Linked DNA regions of Homo sapiens: region 1 is linked to region 2. A link means that fine-mapping ties the variant in region 2 to the expression of a gene that starts in the linked region. Tissue or cell type: whole blood. Region 2 holds a variant in brackets; the other region holds the start of a gene. All regions are shown on one strand. Distances are from middle to middle.

The links. PIP is the estimated chance that this variant, and not a neighbour inherited with it, causes the effect.
Region 1: it holds the start of IGFBP7, and the variant in region 2 is fine-mapped to the expression of IGFBP7 in whole blood (INTERVAL, PIP above 0.99).

Annotation. Positions count from the first base shown.
Region 1 is chr4:57,105,565-57,113,667 of GRCh38, forward strand. It overlaps IGFBP7 (insulin like growth factor binding protein 7), which reads right to left and starts at 4,821. Exons shown (of 5, transcript NM_001553.3): 1 at 4,313-4,821. The coding sequence starts at 4,787. It overlaps IGFBP7-AS1 (IGFBP7 antisense RNA 1), which reads left to right and starts at 4,198. Exons shown (of 5, transcript NR_034081.1): 1 at 4,198-4,406. LOC124900898 (small nucleolar RNA U13) reads right to left here and starts at 781; the gene lies at 679-781. RefSeq lists a silencer at 4,890-4,959.
Region 2 is chr4:57,038,617-57,046,719 of GRCh38, forward strand. It overlaps IGFBP7 (insulin like growth factor binding protein 7), which reads right to left. Exons shown (of 5, transcript NM_001553.3): 2 at 2,208-2,317. Among named protein-coding and RNA genes, the nearest start is that of POLR2B, 64 kb to the left of the region's middle. The variant G/C (reference allele first, on the strand shown) is at 4,334.

The DNA of each region.
Region 1 (8,103 bases), 67 kb after region 2:
ACAACCCTATGAGATAGATAATGGTTATAATCCCTGTCTTATAAGTGAGGAAAACCCTGGGCAGACAGGTCAAATAACTTGCTCAAGGCTATAGTTAGTAAGTGGTCAAGATTCACACCAAGGGAGTCTGGCTTGAGAGCTCCTCATCTTAACTTCTCTGCTATACTGCCTCTTATATACAGATACACAGTACACGTGGAATAAATATTAGTTGAAACAATGGCTGGATGCATAGCTCTAGAAGAACAAATACATCATTTTGGGGTGGGGGAAAGTCAGAATGCTTCTCAGAGAAACTGACAGAGCTGATCCTTGAAGGCTAGGTAACAGCCCATTTTTTAAATTTTTTTTTTTTTTTTTGAGATGGAGTCTTGCTCTTTTGCCCAGGCAGGAGTGCAGTGGTGCTATCTTGGATCACTGCAAGCTCTGCCTCCCAGGTTCACGCCATTCTCCTGCCTCAGCCTCCCGAGTAGCTGGGACTACAGGTGCCCGCCACCACGCCTGGCTAATTTTCTGTATTTTTAGTAGAGACGGTGTTTCATTGTGTTAGCCAGGATGGTCTCGATCTCCTGATCTCGTGATCCGCCCGCCTCGGCCTCCCAAAGTGCTGGGATTACAGGCGTGAGCCATGGCGCCTGGCTGCCCATTTTTAAAATTTTTATTATTATTTTTCTTTCATGTCAGACAGGTAATGTGCCAATGTCATAAAAGGTTTGGGGGCGACATACCTCACACATGTGTATGAACACTCAATCATCATGCTTATGAACTACAAAAGGATCATAGGCAAGAGTTCAAAGGATGGAAAGGAAGTGAAGGAGGGTGCAATTGTGGTGAGTGTGGAGGTGAGAGGCGTTGCAGGCAGAAGGCACAACTTCTACAGAGGCATGAAAGCATAGAGACATATGTGCTGAAGTGTGAATAGCAGACACTTACTGTGGCTAGTGCATAAAGGAGGTTGGAGAGAAGAGGTCAAAATAATAGAATGGAGTTATATTGTGAAGGGCCTGTTATGTCCTGCTAGGTAGTTTGAACTTGGTCCTAAAGGTACTAATAAGGGAGACCCTTAAGAATGACATTCTGATTCCAGAAGTGAAAATTAATTCTGAGGGAGAAAGGATGGTACCTAATGAGACCAAAGCGGCTGAAATGGGATTGCCAAAGAGCTCAGATTTAAAAGACTTTGAACAAAAGGTATAATCAGTAATTGGAATACAGAAGCATCATGTTCTCTTCCAACTATGAAATTTTATTATATATCTTAGCTTCTTTGTATCAACTTCTTTTTATTAAATGGAATCTTCAAATTCCCCCTTCTGGTTATCCATGACTTCAGGGACCTCAATACAATCTAATGGCAGTAAATTCATAATGACAGTTCCAAGATTTGAAATTATTTGCTGATTATCTTTCAGACATATTTTCAAGCAGATCGCTTTGCCTCCTACCAGAGAGGTATGGAAAACAAGCAGACCAAGATCTCTTCCCAGTTGGGTAAGTGGTGATCTTAGAAAGGAGGAAGACTGGGGCAAGCTCCAGGGCTCCAGGGCAAGTGCTCTGGGAGGTGAGTTTGTAACTTGTACAGATACTTTCTTAATCAGCAACATCAAATCTGTTTTGTACATCCCTGGTATATAGCACCTAGTACAGTGCTGACTCAAGTTAGCTGCTCAATAAATGCATGTTAAATGGAACCAAAGACCAGAGGGCAGATTGAATCACACCATTGTGGCTGAATCCCACAATGCTGCCCCTACCTGGCCCCTACTCAAGTTATACTCAAGCATAACTTAAGTTTCTTCTGAGAATAGAAGGGAACCTAGAGGTCTAGAGGAACCTAGACAATGCATTTCCTATTCTGTGCAAAGCCCCAGTATGAAATGGCACAGAAGTAAATGGCACTCTGTCCAGTTTGCTTCTATGATTGTCAAAACCCATCCAGGTGTCAGAAGAAATATTTAGGGGATGTGATAGGGATCAGTCTATTGTCTCTGCTGTGGAAAGTTTCTGCTGTGGGAAAGGCTTCCCATTCTCTTCTGCTCTCTTTGGCATTCTCCTATAAATGGTCTCTGCCATTTAGAACTCATCTCTCTCAATTTAGGATGAGAAGAAATGGCTAATTTAAGTCAAGGTTTCCAGTTTTAGATGCTGTTTTCTCTAACATTTCCCCAAATATAAAGAAAAGCCGGGCCGGAACCCTCAAAGGGTTTGCAGTCTGGAGAGGTACTGAGCTGGGTGTACATGGTAATGAGGTTATGAAACTGGTTCTATATGACTGTCAGTCTCAATATTTTATAATCAGACTGTGTGAGTGTTTGGTGATGTAAGTAGCAGGTGAGAAAAAGGAATATTAAGTATAAACTAGAAATTGACAACACTTGAACAATCACCAAGCTAACCTTCTGCTCTGATAAGGCAAGTATCTGCCATTTTGAAAAAACTATAAAGTTCCCCATTGTAATGTTTATAAGAAAATCTCAATATTTGGAATAAATTCTTAAATAACGCACATTTATCTTTTCATGATGTGACCGACAAATGAGATCCAAAGTAACAAATAACTGTTTCTATTGTAAACATATGCAGATTATTTTGGGTTGCAATTTTCTAAGTTTAAGGTGATGATACTATAAATAGTTACTAGTGAGTTACACAATTTAAGGCTTTCAATAGTGAACTCTGAAATTGATGACATACAACCTATTAGTTTGTGGACTTCTGGGAAAAGCTCTAAAGAAAGAATTTGGAAATTCTGGAGAAAGTCTGAACTGTGTTAAAGAAGCAACAGCTTCTGTAACCTCAGAACTGCCTCCTCTCCCTTTTCTACCTTGGCTAAGATCAGGAGCTGCCAACATTGAATGTCTGACTTTCCCTTGAAAATACTGCCAATGGAAAATGTTATTTCAGGCATTAGAGTTAAAATTTCTATGTGTGTGTGTATGTGCGTGTATTTGCAAGTCCAGACTTTATTTTCTTCTTTCTTTCTTTTTTTTTTGAGATGGGGTCTCTGTCTGTCACCCAGGCTGGAGTGCTGTCATGTGATCTCGGCTCACTGCAACCTCCGCCTCCCAGATTCAAGCGATTCTCCTGCCTCAGCCTCCTGAGTAGCTGTGATTACAGGCATGCACCACCATGCCCAGCTAATGTATATATATATATTTTTTATTAGAGATGGGGTTTCACCGTGTTGGTCAGGCTGATCTCGAACTCCTGACCTCGTGATCTGCCCATCTTGGCCTCCCAAAGTGCTGGGATTACAGACGTGAGCCAACCCACCCGGCCTATTTCCTTATTTCATTTACAGCAAGCTTGGACTTGTTTGGAATAAAATAAACAATCAAACATAATCTCAAAGACATTTCTGCTGAACAGTGTATCCTGGGGACAAATTATGCAAAACAATACAAATCAAAGAAATAGGAAGGAAAAACAAAATGGTCAGAAGGTTGACAACAAAGTGCATCACAAAAACAGTCTTCAAAGAGTTTGTATTTTATTTTTGCCCACAAATAATTAGCTAGTTAGATTACTGTTTGAGAACCTATAATTTTTAGAAAGTGGACTATTTTCTTCAATACTAAGAAATCAGGGCTGTGCACGGTGGTTTATGCCTGTAATCCCAGCAGGCCGGGATTACTTGAGCTCAGGAGTTCGAGACCAGCCTAGGCAACATAGTGAAACTCCGTCGCTATAAAACAAAACAAAACAAAACAAAAAACCAAAAATTGGCCAGGCGTGGTGGCACAGGCTTATAGTCCCAGCTACTTGGGAGGCTGAGGCAGGAGGATCGCTTGAGGCAGAGGTTGCAGTGGGCCAAGATCGTGCCACTGCCCTCCACCCTGGGCGACAGAGCAAGATCCTATCTTTTAAAAAAAAAAGTCTGTCTGGAAGTCCTTACTTTATATTTAATTGTCAAACTCCTTTCCCCCATCTCTTGACTTCACCTCTCTCTACATCCCCAAGCCAAGAATGATGAGAAATGGACAGATGTTAGCACGAGTTGGGTGCGCTTTGGGCATGGGGAAGTCTGAGGTCTCGGAAAATCTTTTCTACATATACACCCGGCCCTCACTTTCTGGACGCACGCAGCAAACTCTCAAAATAAAACCACCAAAAAGGAGAAGGGGGGGCGTCGCCCACCGCTCCTGGCATTCCGCGGCTGCCAACTCTTTCCCTCCCATCTGGCTCCTGGGATGCCCGCGGGGGAATCGCAGTGAGCAGCGCGGGGCGAGGCCGCCGCGGACGCCCCGTCGGATGTGCCCTTCGCTGGGCCGAGCGGCGCAGGGTTGGAGAGGGAAGCGCTCGTGCCCACCTTGCTCGCAGGTGCCCTTGCTGACCTGGGTGATGGCCTTCTCCCCGCGGCTCTCGGCCCTCTGGCTGGCGGCGCGCAGCTGGCAGCCGCTCGGGTAGGTGGTGCCGTCGCTGCCGCACACCGGGTAGCGGCTCTTGCACACGCACACGCCGCTTACACCCGGACCGCCGGCTGCTGCCCCGGCTTTACCCTTCCGCCTCTTGCGGCTCTTCACGCACTCCATGCCCGGCGCGCAGTACCCCCTGCCGGCGCCGCCACCCCCGCACGGCTCGCCCTCGCCGCGGGCGCACATAGGGCAGCAGCCGCACGCGTCGCGGGTCTCGCCCAGCAGGCAGCCCAGCGGGGGCAGGGGCGGGCAGGAGGCCGGCTCGCAGGGGCCGCAGGTGTCCGAAGAGGAGGAAGAGGAGAGGGGCAGGAGCAGGAGCAGCAGCCCAGCGGCGCCGAGGAGCAGGGCGCGCAGCGACGGCCGCTCCATGGCGGGGTGCGGTGGCAGCGGCAAGGGCGCGAGTGAGCCGTGTCGGGCCGGCCGGCGCCTTAAACCCGCCGCCCCGCCCGGCCTGTCCGCGGGAACCACACCCCGGGGCGGTGAGAGCACGGGGGCCCCGCCCGTGCCGCCCTCCCGGCCCCGCGGGGCCTGCGCGCGCGCTCCTGCTGGCGTCGGGGGGTGAGCGGGCACCCGGCGTGACCGGCCCATGGGCGCTCGGTCTCACGCCCGCTTCGCAGAGCTCACCCCGCCAGCTCCTGCTCGGTCCCCAGTCCCCTGCCCCGAGCCCTCAGGGATCGCACCGCAGTGCGAGCGGCTCTTCCACCCTCTGGTTTCTCCCCGTTTCCGGTCAATATATTTAAACTTCTTAACAACCACGGCTTCGAGACGATCCAGGGTTTCATCTATTAAATCCTCCGTGGGCCTGAGACACCTGAGTGCTCATTACTCTGTGGTTTGGGAAGCTCTCTTAAGAACAAGCTGTTAAAAACCCCCACTTGTGGACTGTGTCCCCGCTGGCCACAGGCCTGCTGTGGTCTTGGGTGTCAAGCACTAAAAGGACAAACCGTTGCCAACCACTTCCCTTTCTGGAACCTCTTAACTGCCTGCACCTCCCTCCCCGCTTTGTCTCCCAGTGGCATTCAACAAGACTCTGTGCTTTTTTTGTGCTGAGCCGTTTTCAGTGAGTACTGGAATCCGTGTGAGAGCTGTGCCCTTGTTTTGAGTTCTTGCTGAACTGCTCGCCCTCCAGCAAGCCTCTCGGGAGAACAGAGCGCAGCTGAGAGGAGCAGGGGTCCCAGCTCCTTCCTCGTTGGAGCTGCCACGGAGGCACCTAAAGCGCCCCCAGTCTTCACCAGCATTCCAGGAGGTTTTTGATATAAACGGTGGACTCTTCCTCAGTCTTTCTGCGAAGTGCTCTGCAAACTCAACTTGAAAGCCTCTCTTCCCAGGAACACTGGCCTCTCCAATGCAGACATGGAAGTTGCTTTCACTTTTTAACTGAATGTGTAACATTGCAGCGTGCATTATTCTGCATGTCACATTGTGGTTCTTTTGTGTTCTTTTTTCTTAGCATAAATCCAGGGATTTACAGGGTTGCTGACTGAAAGCCAGCAGTTCAGTTCATAATCCCATTAGCAGTGTAAAGAACTCATTCTCAACAGACTCTTACAAGGATAATTATTGCAAATTTTTTGAAAATTAAATGACCACAAAATCGGGGGGTGGAGAGTGGGGAAACATCCTCCAATCCAGAAAAACCTAGCACTGCTTTTTGGCCTCTCCTTAGTGTATTATAGACAAGTGGAGCATTTTTTTTCCCCTCAAAGGTCATATGTTGACCTGACAGTTGTTTAAAAAACAATGAAAAATCTTTACAGCAGAGTTTCCCTAAATATTTTTGTCTTTGTTCCATCCTAAGAGATGCAGTTTACATGACCCATTTGTTTTCTTGAAAAGGAAACAAATGCAGAGTGCACTCTATTTCCTATTGTATTTAATTTCTTTCTTTCTTTCTTTTCTTTTCTTTCTTTTTCTTTTTTTTATTTTTTTGAGATGAAGTCTCCCTGTGTCGCCTAGTCTGGAGTGCAGTGGTGAGATTTTGGCTCACTGCAACCTCTGCCTCCCAGCTTCAAACAATCCTTCTGCCTCAGCCTCCCGAGTAGCTGGTATTACAGGCATGCACCAACATGCCCGGCTAATTTTTGTATTTTTACTAGAGACAGGGTTTCACCATGTTGCCCAGGCTGGTCTCAAACTCCTGACCTCAAGTGATCCACCTGCCTCGGCCTCCGAAAGTGTTGGGATTACAGGTGTGAGCCACTATGCCCGGCCCTGATTTCCTTTTTATTAATTCACTGGTCAAGAGCCACTAAATTGGTTCCATGATCTAGTATGACGATCTGTCATAGTTTTAGATTCTCCAGAAGCTTTCTCTGAGACAAGGATTCCAGTGCAAGTAGGTCACCTGAGAAGCCACATCAGGACACAGAGATTGAGGGTTGGGGCAGGCAGGTGAGCAAGCAGGAAGGGAAGACAGCCAATAAAGGTGCTTATCTCCGCAGCCAGAAGAAGCCCTCAGGCTCTACAAACTGTGTGTGTGTGTGTGTGTGTGTGTGTGTGTGTGTGTGTGTTTGCGTGTGTAGGGCATGTGGGTGGGCAGTGGCAGCAGCTGTACACTAAGAGCTGTCACCCACAGTGTGTGGAGGTCCTGCATCAGAGCCAACAGTGAGAATGCAAGCATGTGCTACAGCGGAGTCCCTTTGAGGAACCTCCTCACTGCCCAGCAAGCAAAGAAAACAAGCAAGTTTCTGGTCACTGAAAGGGGAACCCGAGCTCTGTGATAGTGCCAGTCGAGCTGGAGGACCTGAAAACAAGAAGAGATGTTAGAAAAAAGGCAGGTGAATGGAGCCTTTAAAGAGCAAGTTGACAACTCCACCCTTCCAATAACAGATATATTGTCACCTGTTCAGCTTCAGTTTTAGTGAGGTGGAGAGGCTGGATGTGGAGATGGAGATATTTTTACTTCTTCCTGTTTAATTGGTGCCTTTTGTTTCTTTTTCTTGCTTAATTGCCCTGGTTAGAACCTCCAGTATAATGTTGAATAGAAGAGGTGAGTGGACACCCTTGTCCCAGTCCTCACCTTAGAGGGAAAGTTGTTAGTTTTTCACCACTAAGTATGAAGTTAGCTGTGGGCATTTCATAGACAGTCTTACCAGGTTGAGGAAATTCCTTTCTATTCTGTTGATTGTTTTTCATCATGAAGTGGTGTTGAATTTTCTTTTCTTTTCTTTTCTTTCTTTTTTTTTGAGACGGTGTCTCGCTCTGTTGCCCAGGCTGGAGTGCAGTGGCGCAATCTTGGCTCACTGCAACCTCCACCTCCCGGGTTCAAGCCATTCTCCTGCCTCAGCCTCCTGAGTAGCTGGGATTACAGGCACATACTACCCCGCTCAGCTAATTTTTGTATTTTTAGGAAAGACTGGGTTTCATCATGTTGGTCAGGCTGGTCTCGAACTCTTGACCTCGTGATCCGCCTGCCTCAGCCTTCCCAGAGTGCTGGAATTACAGGTGTGAGCCATCACGCCTGACAGAGAGTACATTTTAAATGTTCTTGCCTCAAAAATGATAAGTATGTGAGGTAAAGAATATGTTACTTAGCTTAATCTAGTCATTCCACAATACATACATATATAAAAACATCATGTACACTGTAAATATACACAATTTTTTGTGAATTAAAATTTTTTTAATGTTTAAAAAGAATCATTCCTGCTTTCTGAGAGCACCCCATCCATAGCAACCTCCTGCT
Region 2 (8,103 bases):
AGAGCTTGCTGGAGAAGTAAGGCAGCTTAAAATGGATGTCTGGTTATGCCCTTTTACTTAAACTAAGTTCCTTTTTTGGTAGCATGAGTTTGATAATTTTTTAATTTTTATTTTTCGTAGGATAGTTGTGAGGCTCAGCAATTCAAAATGTATAAAAAGGACAAAAACGACCAGGCGCGGTGGCTCACACCTGTAATCCTAGCACTTTGGGAGGGCAAGGTGGGCGTATCACCTGAGGTCGGGAGTTCGAGACCAGCCTGACCAACATGGAGAAACCCTGTCTCTACTGAAAATACAAAGTTAGCCAGGCGTGGTGGCGGGTGCCTGTAATCCCAACTACTTGAGAGACTGAGGCAGAAGAATCACTTGAACCCGGGAGGCGAGGTTGCGGTGAGCCGAGATGGTGCCATTGCACTCCAGCCTGGGCAATAAGAGTGAAACTATGTCTCAAAAAAAAAAAAAAAAAAAAAAAGACAAAAACGTAAGTGTATGGTATAATTGTGAGGTGTTAGTTGATGGCAAATAAGTGTTTTCTTTTCCCTTCTCCATACATGCTGAGATGATGTTGTCCTTCAAATATGAAGATAATTATACAAGATAATGCCACTTGAAGGGAAAAATTTCCAGGAACAGTAGCTAATGTCTACTGAGTGCTAACTATGTATCAAGTAATTTTTACTTGCATTACTTTATTTCATCTTTATGATAATTACATGCTACTTTTATAAGGTAGAGAACAGAGTTGAGGCTAACAGCAGTGGTTTTCAGTCCAGGGCAATTCCCCAGCTCCACACCCTTAGGGGACATTTGGCAATGTCTGAAGATGCTTTTAATTCTCACGACAGGGGGGATGGGGGAATGCTACTGTTATATAGTGGGTAGAGGCTGGGGATACTGCTAAACATCTTCCAAAGCACAGGCAGCCCGCACAACAAATAATTATCTGGCCCCAAATGTCAATAGTGCTGAGGCTGAGAAACCCTGACTTGCAGAGAACTCAGCCACCCTGGCTAAGGAATTCACACTCTTTTTTTTTTTTTTTTTTTTGAGACAGGCTAGAGTGCAGTGGGGCAATCACAGCTCACTGCAGCCTCAATCTCCTGGCTCAAGGGGTTCTTCCACCTTAGTCTCCTGAGTAGCTGGGGCCACAGGCATGCCTCACCATGCCCAGCTAATTAAAAAAATTATTTGTAAGAAGGAAGTCTCACTGTGTTGGTCAGGCTGGTCTCAAACTCCAGGACTCAAGTGATCCTCCTGCCTCAGCCTCCCAAAGTGCTGGGATTACAGGCATGTGCTACTGCACCCAGCCTCACACTTTTTTTTTTCTTTTTTTCCATTTGGGAAGTCATTTCAAAGCTGATTTATTAAAAGAATATCATGCTTTTTCCACTTGGGGCTGGGGCCAGCATTTAGCAAAATTCAGAAAGGAGACATTTTTTTCTTTGCTATTCCTCCTCTTGTTCCTTTTTAATGCTCTGTTCTGGAGTGGTCTCCTCTGTCCCTAACTTATGGTTCTACAGCCTTGGTACTTAGGAGAATAGATCCCACCTCATTCCTTCTATCCTACTTCCAAGTGCCCTTAAAATGTACTCATCCATCTCCCAGCACTTAGGGAATCTGAAAAAATAATCCATGCTCCCAGGAGAAGGCTACAGGGCTTTGTGTCCTTTTACCTTCTTAGCCGAGCCTCCCAGTAAAATAATAATAATGCCTCCAAGCAGACAGGATCTAAATTATCAGCTAAATGTTCAGTCTTAAATGAGGAGACTGATGCCATCACAAACAGCTTGGTGGGGGCTTGGAGGTGGTATTTTGGGACAGAAAGAGAGAAACGTACGCTTTTAACCCCTATGCTATACTGTCTCCACTGAGGGCGCAAACACAGACACACACACTTTCACTCGCACCCACATATGCACACACATACACACACCACAGGTGCACACACACCCTGAAGGTGGGTTCAGGTGTTCAGCATTATTGTTCTTCCAGTTTCTCAGATTCTAGGATGCTGCTAACAAAAGCATGGCAGGGACTGGTTTTTGTTCCATGAATCCAGGGGAGGGGCCTGTATGACTGCCCTAAGGCTTCACCTTGCGGGAGCCGCAGTCAACAAAGCAGGCTGAGGATTTAACGTTTTACCATCCTTGTGCAGTGCAAGAGAAGCTTGTCAGCCTAGGATGTCTCTTAAAGTCTGTGCCACAGACCTTGTTCCAGATGAGGACAGGTGTCGGGATTCCGATGACCTCACAGCTCAAGTACACCTGGGCACCAGTGACATTCCAGATGTCCTTGGGGGGCGTCACTATGGAAGGACCTGCAGGAGAGGGCACAAAGCCAAAGTCATCTTTTAAACAGTCCTTCACATGAGTCAGCATCTTAGGGAGAAAATAATAATTTTGTTTATGAGGCCATCCCCTTGATGGATTATCTGAAGCAAATTTCAAAGACCACACTGGCTTCCTCCTGCCACCAACATGATTTTAAGGTCCACTTTGGGAATGCATAAATCTAAACAAACAAAAACAATTAGGAAGAAAAATGTGTTATTAAAATTTTCTTCTTCCCCAGACCATGCTTAAATGAGTGCTAATTTACCAGCTGTTTTTTTATTATCTGGGACTTTTCCAGTAGTAATAAAATTTTAGTTCCAAAATGTTCAATGTTTTTCTTCTTTTGTTTACCACTATTTCTATTTTGGGTTGGAAAGGCAACAAGCAACCGCTCCATGGGTAATGAAGAAAAAAAATCTAAGAGAATATTTGAAAATGTGCTAAGCACCCAGACAAGATGGAAGTCTCTGCCTCAAGAAGCTTAGGATCTAAGGTTGAAAAGGGTGATGAGGCAGGGAAGAAAAGAAACATGTGGAGTGCTGTGTGCGTCAGGGGATTGGAAGGGACATCTTTATTTTTAATTTAATTTTATTATTATTTTTTTGATACAGAATCTCATTCTGCCACCCAGGCTGGAGCGCAGTGGCTTGATCATAGCTCACTGCAGCCTCAAACTCCTGGTCTCCAGCGATCCTCCCACCCCAGCCTCCCGAGTAGCTGGGACTATAGGCGTGCACCACCATGTCAGTTAATTTTTATTTTTTATTTTTGTAGAGACGGGGTCTTGCTATGTTGCCCAGGCTGGTCCCGAATTCCTGGCTTCAAGTAATTCTCCTGCCTCAGCCTCCCCAACTGCTGGGATTACAGGTGTGAGCCACCATGCCTGGCCAGGAGGCACCTTTGAACAGAAGAGGCCCGGGTGTCGAGGAAGGTGGTACAGGGGTCCTTCTTCCAGTGTGCTCAGGAGAGGCAGCTGGTAAGAAGGAAGAAGAGTGACTGATCTATTGGGTGTGACCAGGGTCCCCAAGGAGAGGGCCCTTTCCCAGCGTTCTCAGTGTCCAGGTCCCTGGCAGGAGGCATTGGCAAGTGGGGGGCACCCTCAAGCCACGGCCTAAATAGAGTCAGCAGGTATGGGGCCACTGAGAGAGGCCAGAATGATGCTTCTCCATTCCCCCAATTAGGGAACACACCCCCCACCTTCTGTATCATGGCACCCTCTGGAGAAGTTCCCTACTCAGAGTCAACACAAACCATGTGTATCCTTTTTGCTATGAAAGTGGTATGACTCTCTGGTCCTGGGTTAGCTAACTATGGCCTGTGGGCCAAATCTGGCCTGCCATCTGTTTTTGCATGGCTTATGAGCTAAGAATGGTGTTTGGATTTTTGTTTTTTTAAATTAAGAAAAATTTTATTTTTTTGAGACAGAACCTTACTCTGTTGCTCAGGCTGGAGTGCAGTGGCATGATCTTGGCTCACGGCAACCTCCGCCTCCCGGGTTCAAGCTCAAGCAATTCCCATGACTCAGTCTCCCAAGTAGCTAGGACTACAAGTGCATGCCCAGCTAATTTTTGTGTTTTCAGTAGAAACAGCATTTTGCCACGTTGGCCAGGCTGGTCTCGAACCCCTGAGCTCAAGCGATCCCCCCACCTTGGCCTCCCAAAGTGTTGGGATTACAGGCGTGAGCCACTATGCCCGGCCTGCAGTTTCAAATGGTTGAAAAAAAATTAAAAGATGGATATTTCATGACGTGTGAAAATTGTAAAGGAAATGTCCATAAAATAAAGTTCTGTTGGAACACAGCCACACTTATTTGTTTCCTGTGGTCTCTGGCTGCTAGAGCAGTTGTGGCTGAGACTGTATGGCTAAAATAGTCACTGTCACTGGCCTTTTATAAAGAAATTTGCTGATTCCTGCTCTAATCAACTGAGGGAGACTGATGCCTAAATAAGACATTATGGGAAAGTCTCAGGACTTCAATCCTTTACACATTTTCCAGAGCT[G/C]ATGCAAGTAACCCCCTGGGTGATTTCTGGTTTGGCTCTGAAACACAAAACTGTGGAAGCCAACAGATACCGAGAGAGCGGGTGCTTGCTGACTGCGCCTGTCCCCTGACGGCCTGGCTTCCCGGCATCTGCAATAGAGATGTGAACACCAACTTTTTAGTTACTGGTAATTAGTATGTCACTTCTGCTAATTCTGAATGCCAGGGTTCAATCACCAGGGGCCTTCAGAAAGACTTGGGACCGTCCGCAGAGGAGGGTCATGGAGCTGGCAGTCTGGGATCCTCATGTGGGGCAGTGTGAGACTCCAGAACCTAACCTGGCTCTTATTCCATGCTTAGCATGGTTTCTTGAATGAATAAATTAATGATCCCTTCTGAATTTTAAATCTCTGCTGACTTGGGTCTCCTATCCTAGCAAAGTACAAACTGCAGGGTCATCTTGCATCAGAGTCCTGGGAAAGGGACAACCTCCCCTTTAGGACTGGAAAGTTTTCTGGCATAATCAGCATTCAAAGGACATAAAGTCTCCCCTTCTGCAACAGGCTATTTCCAGCACAATATTAATTTCTTGAAACAGAAAGGAAATGACCCCAGTGTGCAAGATTTTCCCACTCATCTAAAGCATTAGAAGCTGATTTTTTTTAATCTCATGGGATATTTTTATTTTTGTAGGAATGTGCAAAACAATCAAAAGTTTGGAAAGCTCTAAATACATTTCATGCTTCCTTCCCTCCAAACCATAGGTCTGAATAGGAAGCATATATCCTGGCCAGGGGGCTTGGCTCTTCTGCTGCAAACATGAATGTGGTGAGCACAGTGGTGCAGTATTTACGTTTCTGGCTCTGTCTCAGACATTTCCTAGTCTGGATGCAGCAATACAGAACCCTGCAAAGGGCTGGGCCTCACCCTATCCCGGGCTTCCTCTAGGGCTATGGGACCCCAAGGGTTTGGACACCACAGAGCCGGATCTGGCTGGGCTTTGAACTGCCTTCGCCCACCTCTCTGATGGCCCTCATGCTGCTCTGTTCTCCTTCCCACACACAGACTTGGCAGGAGGACTTCAAAGCTCAGGGGATCTCAAAGGATTGTTCTGAGAAGAGCATACCAGTTTTCAGAGATTTGAGGGGGAGCTCGGGAACAAAGCTGCTTCTCTCATATCCAAACCACACAAGGAATGCAAGACAATTTTATTGTGAGGATCTGAGGGCCTCAGCCCTGCCAAAACCTACTTACTTTAACCTGTGTCCATCTCCCTATTGCCAATACAGGTAGCAGGGTCATCGGTCTTGGGCAGGGGGCAGATTCTGGAGTGCTAATGGGCAAGTTCCAGCCTGATTTTCTGCCAGAGATCTTGAAGACATGCTATGGATTTTTCCCATGGGATTTTAAAACAGATGTTCTTAGTTTTAGTATAGTCCAATTTATCAAGTTTTCTTTTCTGTGGTTAGTGCTTTTCGTGTCCTGTTTAAGAAAATTTTTGCCTAGCCCAAGGCTATGAAGATCTCCTGTTTTCTTCTACAAGCTTTATGGTTTTACTTTTCACATTTAAGTTTTTGCTCCATCTTGAATTAATTTTTGTGTGTGCTATGAGGCAGAGGTCAAGTTTCATTTTTCCTCCCCTAAAAGGACATCCAATTGCTTCAGCACCATTTGTTGAAAAGACCATCTTTTTCCTAATGAATCATAATAATGCCTTTGTGGAAATCTGTAAGACCCACTGTATATGTGTGCGTCTATTTCTGGACTCTCTGTTCTTTTCCACTGGTCTATGTGTCTATCTTTGCACCAATAACTATGGCATAATTTAGAAATTAATTGTACTAAAGTTGAAGCACTAAATAGAGGGCAGATCTAATATATCTGTTCCCCCCCAATCATCTTACTATTCCAAGAAGCAGAACACTCTAGGACAAGTAAGAATTCTTTTTTTATTTTTATTTTTGTAGAGACAGAGTCTTGCTATGTTGACTAGGCTGGTCTCAAACTCGTGGGCTCAAGTAATCCTCTTACTTCAGCCTCCCAAAGTACTGGGATTATGGGTGTTAGCAACAGTGCCCAGCCATGAATTCTTTAAAAATACCTGAACCCAGGAATACTTTGAATGACAGCCATCGTCAGGGGATTCAATATTAGGACAAATCATATCATGGGTTCCTATTTCTCTCTCCCAATGCTTGGAATACCTTAGGTAAACAGGCTGAGTCAACATTTGGATTATTCTAAGAATGTAAATGATTTTGTCAATCCTGCCACCAGGCTATTTCTAGAATTCTACAAGACTTCCATACCACAAAAATCTATAATATCCACTGACTCCTGCTGGGGTGATGTAGTGGAAGGGCAGAGGAGGGGCTGTTAGGACCAGTTTGCTGCACAACATTTACAAAAACCTTTGACTATTTCAAATATCCTTGAACAAATGCTGGGTTTACTAACACAATGAAAAGTTTAACAAACAATACGTAAACTGGAAAGTGCTAAGAAATAAGGCTACAGAACGGCCTTTTGGTTTTGAGATGCAGTCTCTTGCAAAGGAAAGTCACATCAATAAATTATTAGTGTAATATTCAAGGGACCAAACAGACCTCTTAGAGTACATGGAGGCGGGTTGGCCTCCACGTGACTTCCTGTGTTGGAAGAATCTGTAGGGATTCAACATTCTTTCCAGTACTTTCTTCAGAGCTGATACCCAGTAGGATACCTATTTACTAAGCTCTGATTGGTTCTTTACCACTTACCTGGTCTGGAAATTCCCCCAGAATATGCAGAGGGAATGGAAAAACTCCTTTTTTTTTTTTTTAGATGGAGTTTTGCACTTGTTGCCCAGGGTGCAATGGTGTGATCTCGGCTCACTGCAACCTCTGCCTCGTGGGTTCAAGCGATCCTCCTGCCTCAGCCTCCCAAGTAGCTGGAATTACAGGTGCTCGCCACCATGCCTGGCTAATTTTTGTATTTTTAGTAGAGATGGGGTTTCACCATGTTGGCCAGGCTGGTCTTGAACCCCTGACCTCAGGTGATCTGCCCACCTCAGTCTCCCAAAGTGCTGGGATTACAGGTGTGAGCCACTGCACGCGACCAAAATCTCTTGATAAAAGCAAATTACAGAAGTTTTAGAGAAAGGTAAATGAAGATACATGGTGAGAAAGAATAAGCAAGCGACTTAATGGTGACCCACAGGGACACCAAGAGGACAAGTCTTGTATAGAAGAGAAGAGATGCTGAAAATGTTTTCGGTGGATACAATGCCAGCCCCAACAATGCTGCACTCTCCTCCCCGACTCTCAAGAACTATCATCCCACACATTCCATTGATCAGCAATTTCACTGCCAACAATCATCTTGAATTGCAGGTCTGTCCTGCAATTCAATCCCTGACAGTTCTGTTCTACCTCAGGAGAGCACTGTACTCAATGACTCTGTACCAAATAACTTCTAACTCTTTCCACTCTACCTTTCTTCCAAGAAGGGCAAGGCAGATCGAGAATTTATTTCTGTTTTTAAGAATAAAGAAATTTTTAGGTCACTCTGAGCTAATTTTCTCATACAGAAAGCTCAAAATCAGTCCTCAAGGCCAGGTCAAGGGTAATAACAACATTATCATCTAACTCATACTCAGTGTTTGGATTCCGTTTAAAACAGGTCACAGAATTCTTAAATGTATAGGGACAAACATCAGGATAGGTCCAATTATTTATTTATCCTTGCCCTTGTTCCATTAAGAGCTCCAGACTGCTCAAACATCTGTCTAGCAAACATCCTGTTCATAGAATA